3 linked regions of the Homo sapiens genome follow. The protein of the gene in region 1 purifies or fractionates together with the protein of each later gene. This does not show direct contact. Each region holds a gene or a part of one and is shown in the gene's direction. Other genes may lie near its edges. The genes, in order: SLC25A35, CPT2 and SLC12A6.

What was found.
Region 2: the proteins of SLC25A35 (region 1) and CPT2 purify together in Homo sapiens (affinity purification with mass spectrometry; one large-scale study listed by BioGRID and IntAct). This does not show direct contact.
Region 3: the proteins of SLC25A35 (region 1) and SLC12A6 purify together in Homo sapiens (affinity purification with mass spectrometry; one large-scale study listed by BioGRID and IntAct). This does not show direct contact.

What each region holds. Positions count from the first base shown.
Region 1 is NC_000017.11:8,289,455-8,292,443, reverse strand, and holds the end of SLC25A35 (solute carrier family 25 member 35), read left to right. Parts: intron 1-88; coding exon of another isoform or gene 89-172; exon of another isoform or gene 173-266; intron 267-958; coding exon 959-1,111; intron 1,112-1,467; coding exon 1,468-1,602; intron 1,603-1,765; coding exon 1,766-1,939; 3' UTR 1,940-2,383; downstream 2,384-2,989. Other genes in the region: RANGRF (ran guanine nucleotide release factor), read right to left, coding at 2,508-2,631, 2,856-2,941. UniProt on the Homo sapiens protein: Putative antiporter that exchanges dicarboxylates and sulfur oxoanions across the inner membrane of mitochondria.
Region 2 is NC_000001.11:53,210,324-53,213,972, forward strand, and holds part of CPT2 (carnitine O-palmitoyltransferase 2, mitochondrial isoform 1 precursor), read left to right. Parts: coding exon 1-996; intron 997-2,940; coding exon 2,941-3,272; 3' UTR 3,273-3,649. UniProt on the Homo sapiens protein: Involved in the intramitochondrial synthesis of acylcarnitines from accumulated acyl-CoA metabolites.
Region 3 is NC_000015.10:34,334,883-34,339,319, reverse strand, and holds the start of SLC12A6 (solute carrier family 12 member 6), read left to right. Parts: upstream 1-1,538; 5' UTR 1,539-1,988; intron 1,989-2,303; exon of another isoform or gene 2,304-2,567; 5' UTR 2,568-2,639; coding exon 2,640-2,910; intron 2,911-4,437.

The sequences.
Region 1 (2,989 bases):
CAATCCCAGCCACTGCTCTGCTCAACCCATCGGTTCTGTCCCATTTTGCCCCTGGAGTCTACCCAGACCCTCTTTACTCTTTTTTTAGATGGAGTCTCGCTCTGTTGCCCAGGCTGAAGTGCATTGGCACGATCTCGGCTCACTGCAACCTCCGCTTCCCGGGTTCAAGTGATTCTCCTGCCTCAGCCTCCCGAGTAGCTTGGGACTACAGGCGTGCACCACCACACCCAGCTAAATTTTTTTTGTTTTGTTTTGTTTTGTTGAGACAGAGTCTTGCTCTGTTGCCCAGGCTGGAGTGCAGTGGCGCAGTCTTGGCTCACTGCAACCTCCACCTCCCGGGTTCAAGTGATTCTCCTGCTGCAACCTCTTGAGTAGCTGGGATTACAGCCATGCGCCACCACGTCCAGCTAATTTTTGTAATTTTAGTAGAGATGGGGTTTCACCATGTTGGTCAGGCTGGTCTCGAACTCCTGAACTTGTGATCCGCCCGCCTCGGCCTCCCAAAGTGCTGGGATTACAGGCATGAGCCACTGCACCCGGCAATTTTTGTATTTTTAATAGAGATGGGGTTTCACCATGTTGGCCAAGCTGGTCTCAAACTCCTGACCTCAGGTGATCCACCCGCCTGGGCCTCCCAAAGTGCTAGGATTACAGGCGTGAGCCACCGTGCCTGATGCCTCTTTCCAATATGTACTCCAGTTCCTCTAATTTTCTGCCCCTGTTTCTCCTGACCAGTGAATGGCCTCACTTGCATACATCCCGCCCCAGTTCTTGGGTGCCCAGGGAAGGAACAATGGGGTGGCTAGACAACCAAGGGCCCACATTCTGGCTCTAAGCCCACATTGAACTGGTTGTCTGGACAAGAGATTCCTATTAAGGACCCATCCTTGGCAGTGTTAGGATGGCAGCCCCTGATGCTGGGCTGTCTGAACCCCACCCCCGGTCTTCCCCACACTAGGGCATGTTTCAGGCGCTAACCGAGATTGGCCAGAAACATGGTCTGGTGGGGTTATGGCGTGGGGCTCTGGGCGGCCTGCCCCGAGTTATCGTCGGTTCCTCCACCCAGCTGTGCACCTTCTCATCCACCAAGGACCTCCTGAGCCAGTGGGAGGTACTGCCTGGGAAATGGGTGGGTCTGTTTCGGGAAGGGGGGAAGGGGAGGGCAAGCTGCACTAGGCCCTGGAGGGGATGGTGCCCAACATTCACAGGTGAGGGAGTGGCAGGAGGGCTTGGAGGTCAACTCTTTAGACCCTTCCCACAGTTCTCTTGTCACTTCCTCCCAGAAGGGGTACCTGAGCCTTCAGGGTACCCTGGCCTTCCTCCTTCTCACTGTTTTTGCACTGTTATAACTGGTGCAGTGGAAGCTCCCCCAGTTACCAGCATCTGTGTCCCCAGGGCAGGGACTGTCCTGTCCTTGGGGTGTAATAGTTGGCTGGTTGACAACGCTCTTCCTCTCTACCCCCTTAGATCTTTCCTCCCCAGAGCTGGAAGTTGGCGCTGGTGGCTGCCATGATGAGTGGCATTGCAGTTGTCTTGGCCATGGCACCCTTTGATGTGGCCTGCACAAGGCTCTACAACCAGCCCACAGATGCACAGGGCAAGGTAAGGAAGTGCTCTGGGATGCAGGCGGGAAGCAGGGGATGGGGAAGGCAGATTGCGGGTGCAGGTGGGATAGCCTGAAATGCAGCCTGTAGAGGTGCTGCCCCTGGTGGGCTCTGACAAACTCCTTCTCTGTGCTCTCCCTCCCTCTCTGACACACTCTCAGGGCCTCATGTACCGGGGGATACTGGACGCTCTGCTGCAGACAGCTCGGACCGAGGGCATTTTTGGCATGTACAAGGGTATAGGTGCCTCCTACTTCCGCCTCGGCCCCCACACCATCCTCTCCCTCTTCTTCTGGGACCAGCTGCGCTCCCTCTACTACACAGACACTAAATAACAGCCGCTTTCCCAGTCTCCACCAAATGAGCACTCCTTGGCCACTTGTGCCTCCACCACTATGTCCTGGTGACTACTGATTAGGTGACCTTTCATCCATCCATGGGGGACAGCCAACCCCACTCCCCATCTGTTCTCAGGGTTGAATCACTACAAGAGATGAGTTTCCCTTCTTTCCTTGGGTGTTGCTTTAAACCTTCCCTACCCATTCCCTGGGTAACTCACACCCCTCTCTCAGGGCTGAACGAGTCATCCCAAAGTGTATTTCCTCCCACTCACCACTGCCACCCTTGAGTCCCTCCTGCTCCCATGCACAGTTTTAAACTCCTCCCTCCAAAACCAAAGGGAATCGAGAGACCCAATTCCCAGGCGTCTGGGACCCAGGTGTCCTGTTAGATTCAAAGGCACAGAGATTATATTGATTATAAAGCAAGTTTATTCTGAAGAGGGATTGTCTTATGTTTACGCACAGGGAAGAAATAAGAGGAAACCCTCTTTTCAACCTCTTTTCCCCCTCACAGAACCGAGTCCCCAAGTTCTCAGCAACATCATGCAGTGCTTCAGCGCCTTTACTGGGGACCAAAGATGTTAGGATCGTGAAGGGTCAGACTGGTCACCAGCTGTTCAAAGTCACCCAGGCTCCAGGGTGCAGGTGACAGATTTTCGGGGCCAAGAGATGACCTGTTGTCAGGGCTTGGGGTGGGGGAACAGATGGAGACAGAACATCATCCAGGCCTGAGGTTTGGAAATTGCCAATTCCTGTTCCCCAGAGGACCTGGGTATCAGTTACCCCAAACCTCTGGCCCACTCCTGCTTCCTTGGAGGATCCCACCAGTGAGTCTCCCTGTTCTGTCCCTCCCAGCCCGATTCTCCTGGGAACCCAGTCATGAGATACCCGCCCGTTCCTTCCTCCTTACGGGGGCTGATTGAAGGTAAGCAAGAGATCAGTCTGGTACTGGGGCAGCCTCAGCAAGGCCTGATGAAGTGTCACGTCCTTTGCTACCTAAGGGGATCAGAGTCAGGATGCTTACCTGGATCTCTGCGTCCCCGC
Region 2 (3,649 bases), on another chromosome or scaffold:
ATTTTCGGCTTTTCAACTCAACTCGTTTACCCAAACCCAGTCGGGATGAACTCTTCACTGATGACAAGGCCAGACACCTCCTGGTCCTAAGGAAAGGAAATTTTTATATCTTTGATGTCCTGGATCAAGATGGGAACATTGTGAGCCCCTCGGAAATCCAGGCACATCTGAAGTACATTCTCTCAGACAGCAGCCCCGCCCCCGAGTTTCCCCTGGCATACCTGACCAGTGAGAACCGAGACATCTGGGCAGAGCTCAGGCAGAAGCTGATGAGTAGTGGCAATGAGGAGAGCCTGAGGAAAGTGGACTCGGCAGTGTTCTGTCTCTGCCTAGATGACTTCCCCATTAAGGACCTTGTCCACTTGTCCCACAATATGCTGCATGGGGATGGCACAAACCGCTGGTTTGATAAATCCTTTAACCTCATTATCGCCAAGGATGGCTCTACTGCCGTCCACTTTGAGCACTCTTGGGGTGATGGTGTGGCAGTGCTCAGATTTTTTAATGAAGTATTTAAAGACAGCACTCAGACCCCTGCCGTCACTCCACAGAGCCAGCCAGCTACCACTGACTCTACTGTCACGGTGCAGAAACTCAACTTCGAGCTGACTGATGCCTTAAAGACTGGCATCACAGCTGCTAAGGAAAAGTTTGATGCCACCATGAAAACCCTCACTATTGACTGCGTCCAGTTTCAGAGAGGAGGCAAAGAATTCCTGAAGAAGCAAAAGCTGAGCCCTGACGCAGTTGCCCAGCTGGCATTCCAGATGGCCTTCCTGCGGCAGTACGGGCAGACAGTGGCCACCTACGAGTCCTGTAGCACTGCCGCATTCAAGCACGGCCGCACTGAGACCATCCGCCCGGCCTCCGTCTATACAAAGAGGTGCTCTGAGGCCTTTGTCAGGGAGCCCTCCAGGCACAGTGCTGGTGAGCTTCAGCAGATGATGGTTGAGTGCTCCAAGTACCATGGCCAGCTGACCAAAGAAGCAGCAATGGGTGAGGCAGGGGTGGGGAGCATGCCCTTGGGTCTTGTCCTCAGTGCTTGGGTAAGCAAGCCTAAATCATTCTACTCCAAATCTGATTTCTACCCGTTCACTAGGTTTAATCCATCGCCAACTCCCCAAATTTTTCTTTTCTACCCTAGCAGTCTGAACAGCCACACTAGCCACTAGGGATCAGAATGTTCTTGCCTCCTAAGCAGGGGTGGGGAAATGCATGTGTCTTTGTCCTCATTTAAGGTCACTTTCAGCTGTGACGCATTAATTCTTTTTTCTTTCTTTTTTTTTTTTTTTTTTGGAGACAAGAGTTTCCCTCCGTCCAGGCTGGAGTGCAATGGCGTGATCTCGGCTCACTGCAACCTCCACCCCCAGGTTCAAGTGATTCTCCTGCCTCTGCCTCCCAAGTAGCTGGGATAATAGGCACCCGCCACTACACCTGGCTAGTTTTTGCATTTTTAGTAAAGAAGGGGTTTTGCCATTTTGGCCAGGCTGGTCTTGAACTCCTGACCTCAGGTGATCCATCCCTCTCAGCCTCCCAAAGTTCTAGGAATACAGGCGTGAGCCACCGCACCTGGCCTTTTTTTTTTTGGAGACACGGTCTCATTCTGTCACCCAGGCTGGAGTACAGTGGTGCAATCATGGCTCACTGCAACCTCAACTTCCTTGGCTCAAACAATCCTCCTGCCTCAGCCTCCCAAATAGCTGGGACTATAGGCATGCACCACCATGCCCAGCTGATATTTTAATTTTTTTTTTTTTTTGAGATGGACTCTTGCTCTGTTGCCCAGGCTGGAGTGCAGTGGCACAATCTCAGCTCACTGCAACCTCTGCCTCCTGGGTTCAAGCGATTCTCCTGCCTCAGCCTCCTGAGTAGTTGGGACTACAGGCTTATGCCACCATGCCCAGCTAATTTTTATATTTTCAATAGAGACGGGGTTTCACTATGTTGGCCAGGTTGGTCTCAAACTCCTGACCTCATGATCTACCCGCCTCACCCTCCCAAAGTGCTGGGATTATAGGCGTAAGCCACCATGCCGGGCCTAATTTTTAAAATTTTTTGTAGAGATGAGGTCCCACTGTATTGCCCAAGGTGGTCTCAAACTCCTGGGCTCAAGCAATCCTCCTGCCTTGGCCTCCCAAAGCACTAGGATTATAGGCATGCACCACTGCACCCAACCTTTTTCTATTACTGATTGGTTATCAGACTCACTTTTGAAAATTTAGGATTTCTAAACTTACGGCCCCACTAGCTTCACCTCAGTTGTAATGTGTCTGCTCTCTGTAAACAGGTTATCTCAGAAGCTCTTCTCAATTGTCATCCGTCATTACCTTTTTTTGATAAAATTCAAGACCTGGAAAGGACCTGGAGGGTCATAGTTGTCCTTTCATGTTGCTATGAAGTGCTGGAAGTGAAAGGGACCTCCAAGACATTCTAATCTTCTCTTCCTCCATTTTATAGGGAGAAAACCAAGCCACTGGCCCCGTTACACAGCAAGTTAGTAGTAAGACTGAGATTCGAACCCTGGTCAAACAGACTTTCCATTTTGTTCCACTGACTCAATCTTCTCTTTTACACTTGAATCAGACTTTTAGTTTTATTGTAGTTTTTGAGTCCATAGCTGTCTTCCTGTACTGTCTTGACTCTTTGACTAAACTGATTTCACATCTTTAAAATTATGCTTTCCTTTTAGGCTCATTTTTAGCTCAGCTGTTGACAGCTATTTTTAAATGTAACATGACATAATATATTTCCTAAATAATTTAAAATAATCTAGCTTGAGCTGCTCTGAAGGTTAGTCAGTTGGTGGTGTGCATAGAGGTAGAGCCTTCCCCCACTCTCAAGGATGCTGTGAGGGGTATTCCTACCATGTGGTGAGTTGGGAGGTTTTCCTGAGGTCCTTTTCCATCCTGAGACTCTGGTTTTCCATTTTGTTTCTCACAGGCCAGGGCTTTGACCGACACTTGTTTGCTCTGCGGCATCTGGCAGCAGCCAAAGGGATCATCTTGCCTGAGCTCTACCTGGACCCTGCATACGGGCAGATAAACCACAATGTCCTGTCCACGAGCACACTGAGCAGCCCAGCAGTGAACCTTGGGGGCTTTGCCCCTGTGGTCTCTGATGGCTTTGGTGTTGGGTATGCTGTTCATGACAACTGGATAGGCTGCAATGTCTCTTCCTACCCAGGCCGCAATGCCCGGGAGTTTCTCCAATGTGTGGAGAAGGCCTTAGAAGACATGTTTGATGCCTTAGAAGGCAAATCCATCAAAAGTTAACTTCTGGGCAGATGAAAAGCTACCATCACTTCCTCATCATGAAAACTGGGAGGCCGGGCATGGTGGCTCATGCCTGTAATCCCAGCATTTTGAGAGGCTGAGGCGGGTGGATCACTTGAGGTCAGGAGTTTGAGACCAACCTGGCCAACATGGTGAAACCTTGTCTCTACTAAAAATACAAAAATTAGCTGGGTGTGGTGGCATGTGCCTATAATCCCAGCTACTTGGGAGGTTGAAGCAGAATTGCTTGAACCCAGGAGGTGGAGGTTGCAGTGAGCTGAGATCACACCACTGCACTCCGGCCTGGGCGACAGAGCGAGACTGTCTCAAAAAAACAAAAAAGAAAAAAAAACTGGGGCCTGTGTAGCCAGTGGGTG
Region 3 (4,437 bases), on another chromosome or scaffold:
CAAGAAACCCAGACTTTATAAAGAGTCAAACTTTAGGAGGTTTACACTTTACATTAGGATTTCTCATTTTGTTACCAGGATCTTTTTAACCTTTTTGATCCTTTAATCCTTGAAAGGATTTGGACTTTGTGTGTCATTTGATAAAAGAGAACTTCCGGGAATACAGTTCCCATTGCTAGGAGTGCTGCTTAAACATAACCACTTGTGAGGAGCCAAGACCCCAGGCAAAACCGGGGGCCAGTTTCTGGGCCCAGGTGATTGTTAAATTTAGAGGTCTTGATCACAGCTATAGGAAATAGCTTTTCAAACAAAACATTGGTGAGTCAGAATTTATCGAACACCACCATTTATACATTAAATAAACACTAAGAAAAAATATTCTAGCGACAAATGTAGTGGTGAAAACATGGAATGGATTTGAGAAAATACATCAACGTCTTCTCCAGGTATAAAAAAACGTATTATTTAGTGGAACTTTCAGTCTGACTAGAAAGTGGACATAGCATTTATTAAAAGGACAAGAACAACAACAAAAAATTAAAGTAGGACAAATGTGTTTAAGGTACTTTATAGTTTTATTTTTATTTATTTATTTCTTTGAGACGGAGTTTTGCTCTTGTCCCCCCAGGCTGGAATGCAATGGTGCGTTCTCGGCTCACTGCAACCTCCGCCTCCCAAGCTCAAGCGATTCTCCTGCCTCAGTCTAAGGAATAGCTGGGATTACAGGCACACGCCACCACGCCCGGCTAATTTTTGAATTTTTGGTAGAGACGGGGTTTCGCTATGCTGGCCAGGCTGGTCTGGAACTCCTGAGCTCAGGTGATCGATCACGCCCGCCTCAGCCTCCCAAAGTGCTAGGATTACAGTCGTGAACCACCGCGCCAGGCCTACTTTATAGTTTTAATTTTTTTTTTTTACATAAAAGTGGTTTATTTGTATGTAGACCTCTACATAAAAATTACAATGAGGGTTATTCCCAGGTATAGGAGCGGTGTTTCTGGTTAAAGAAATCATGAATGATGTTTTCAGAGACACTCATGAAAGAGAAATGGCTCCCCGGGTTCTGAGGGTGAGGAGCAGCGCCCGCCCTCTAGGATGCTTCCAGAGTGAGTGTGCAGCACAGCCGGACCGAGGAAAAGGATTATTCCCCTCTTCACGCGGGTCGGGCCGTGCCCTGGACTACAGCTCCCGTCGTGCCCCTGGCCACTCGTATTCGGCCCCGCCCCGCCTGCCGTGTCCCGCGGCGAGCGCAGGCGCGCTGCACTCGGTCACCGCGGGCTGCGGCGGCTGGGCGGGGCTTTCGGGCGCCCGCGGGACGGTTCCGCCCTCTCACTGCACCCCCGGGCTTCTCTTCGCAAGGTTCACCTCGAATGAGGAACAAGCGGGGAGGGAAGGGAAGGGCTGCGGCGGCGCGGGCGCACCCCGTCGGGCCCGGGGCTGGGGGAGGCCAGGTCACGTAACTGCTGCTCTGGCGTCGGGCCGGGGAGGGGGCGCCAGCCCCGGCAGCGCGAACCCTGCGCGCGCCGCGGCTCTGAAACAGTTACCGGCTAGTAAACAACAGCTGCGCGCGCACCCGCATCAGCTGGCGCCGGGATACTGCACCTGCGACCTCCTTCTCCCTCACCCTGCTGCCCAGTCAGGCCAGCCTGCGTGGCCGTCTCCTCCTCTACTGGGACCCTGAGGAAGAACGACGAGGGGGTGACCTGCGCCGGGGCGGGGGTAGGGGAGAACGCGCCTCCGGCAAAGGGGGTGGCTCGTCCTGTCACACGCAGGAGAAACCTAGCGAGCGGACCGTGGCTCAGTGGACTAGCTACGACTTGCCACGACTCTGAGCTGCAGTCCGAGGTGTCTTGATCCGCTAACCTCCTCCCAGACCCCGAGGACCTTTCTGCTAGGAGAAGAGCGGGCGCGCCACCCCCACCGACCTCTCGGAGACAGGAATCCGCTCTGCCCCTGCATCCTCCTCTGCTCACCCTTCTCTCAGTAGTGTGGGTTATTTTTCCCGTTATGCATGTGCACCTTTCCCACCAGACCCAAGTGGATTGTCGACATCAAAAACACCGGGTGGCTTTGCATACACCTCCCCCCAGCCAGACCTGTGGGGTATTCACCTGATACACAACAGGTGGCCGGGTGTACACCTTTTAGCAATCTGATCCACGCTATAGTCGCCTGATAAAGGTTTGCCTGCACGCACTTCGCCCAACTAGAACCGTGGGACACTCACCAGATAAAGGACTACCTCGACAGGAAACTGGGGGCTGAGGGGAGGGAGGCTTCATCTGCTGCCCTGAGACCATGGCACTGAGCCTTCAGCCCCGGACCAGAGGGGTTAGCTAGGTAGCTCTTCATTCTGAAGGAAAGAAGTCACACAAGATTGGCATTGTTTTGTCTTTTTGTTTTTTGTTTTTTTCTCTCTTAAAAAATATATTCACCTATTGGTGATGCACTTTCTAGGACAGTCGGCTTGAATTCTGAGTAGAAGTATTCTTAGTTGGGGCTTTTTGTGTGGTGTGAATCAAGGTTATTGAAATGTGTTATTTTTCAAGTTATCTTTTGTATTGCAGTCAAAAGTAGCTAGCGTAAGAGGAAGATTTTGCGAGGTTCCCCCCACTTTTTTTGTTCTTAAAAAGAACAAAATGCATCCTCCAGAAACCACCACCAAGATGGCTTCAGTTCGGTTCATGGTGACACCGACAAAGATCGATGACATTCCAGGTTTGTCAGACACCAGTCCGGACCTCAGCTCTCGATCTAGTTCCCGAGTAAGATTTAGCTCCCGGGAAAGCGTGCCTGAAACAAGCCGGAGTGAGCCTATGAGTGAGATGTCTGGGGCCACCACTTCGCTGGCAACTGTTGCACTGGATCCACCCAGTGACCGGACTTCTCACCCCCAGGATGTCATCGAGGGTAAGTAGAAACACAGACCGCAGCATACTTTCATTACTGGGTTCTTTATCCAAGATGACCATCTATGGATCTGGAAGATCATAATCATATAATTATGATTATAATAGTCATCAGGAACCAAGGCATCTCTTTGTGAGATGCTTAGGAACTCTTTGGAATAATAGCATAGTGGCTCTTTGCAGTAGTAATTTGGTATGTGGGAAGGTGTATGACAAGAAGGAAGGCAAATGTATATTTTAACTTCCTCATTTTTGTCTTCTTAGAAATGAAATGGGTATTTTGGTTAAAAGTGAATATCAAAGAATGTAATCGTTTTCAGCACACAGAATCCTAAATTTTAAAATTTAGTGAGTTGGATATGTGTTCTGTAGCCATCATTGGCTATTTCAGTCTGCTTTAAGACTGGTTTCATGGAGTAGTTACTGGTCGTATCTTAGCAGCTTTCCTCCAAGACTTCGAATGTGTATTGCAAAATTCTTTTTTGAAATCTGTATTTTTATGGAGACCTTGACACAAGTAGCTAAGCCCACTCAGGGTGATGGTGGGTAGACCTAATGTGCTATTCTGTCAAATGGAAGACTTCTGAAAAGGCTTTTAGGGCCTGATTCCCATGTAATTTATTCTCTCTGAGCTTTAGATGGAAAGTCTGATGATTAGAGTTAGCAGGTAGCACACAAGCCACTCCTGGCTCATGTTGACTGCTACAGACCTTTAGCTTCCTAAACCAGTTTGTGTGTGTCAGCTGGCTTGGTTTTATTTGAGGTACTGGGAAGAGGTGATGGAAGAGAGAGAAGAGAGAAAATGGGGAGATCATAACATTTTTTGGACTCTGAAATTTAAAAGTTTGAGACCTGTACTGCTTTATATATTTAGTTTTATGCTGTGTTGTAACTAATGTAATCTTTTAATGATAAAAATTTCCCTTAAAGACTCTTAAAATAATATTCCACCCAAGTTTGAAAACCATAGCCTCACCCACTGACTTGTGAAAGCAAGGCTTACTCACCATTTTCCGGTGTCAGGAAATATTGTTCCTTTTAACCTAAAGGGTTCAGGAAACCAGAATGATTTTAGTTCCCTAATTCTGTTTGTGTTTTTAGTATCTGGAGACAAGGTAGATTTGGTAAAGTTTACAGTCCTAGAATTCACTCATCCTTGACTAATCATTTTTTCTTTTATGGAGACATAGGTTGGTTCTCAGACTTTACTGTTTTCAACTTTTTGACAAATTTTACAGTGTGTCATACACTGGATTAAAATTACAGTATGGAATACAAATTTATCATTTCCTCTTCCTCCAAATTAATTCCAAATTGTGGTTTTAGTTTTTATCCATCATGCTGTATTTAGGTTGTAAAAATTCCAGGTAAAGACTATACCAGTGTTAATTTCTTAATATTGTAATTATCATTAGGTAATTTATAGTTTAGTTTGTTAGACTTGTGACTTACATGTTACAGAATTGTATTTTTATTCTTTGGAAAAGTGGACTTAGTAATGTGTTAGACCAGCAGAACAGGTTCCTTG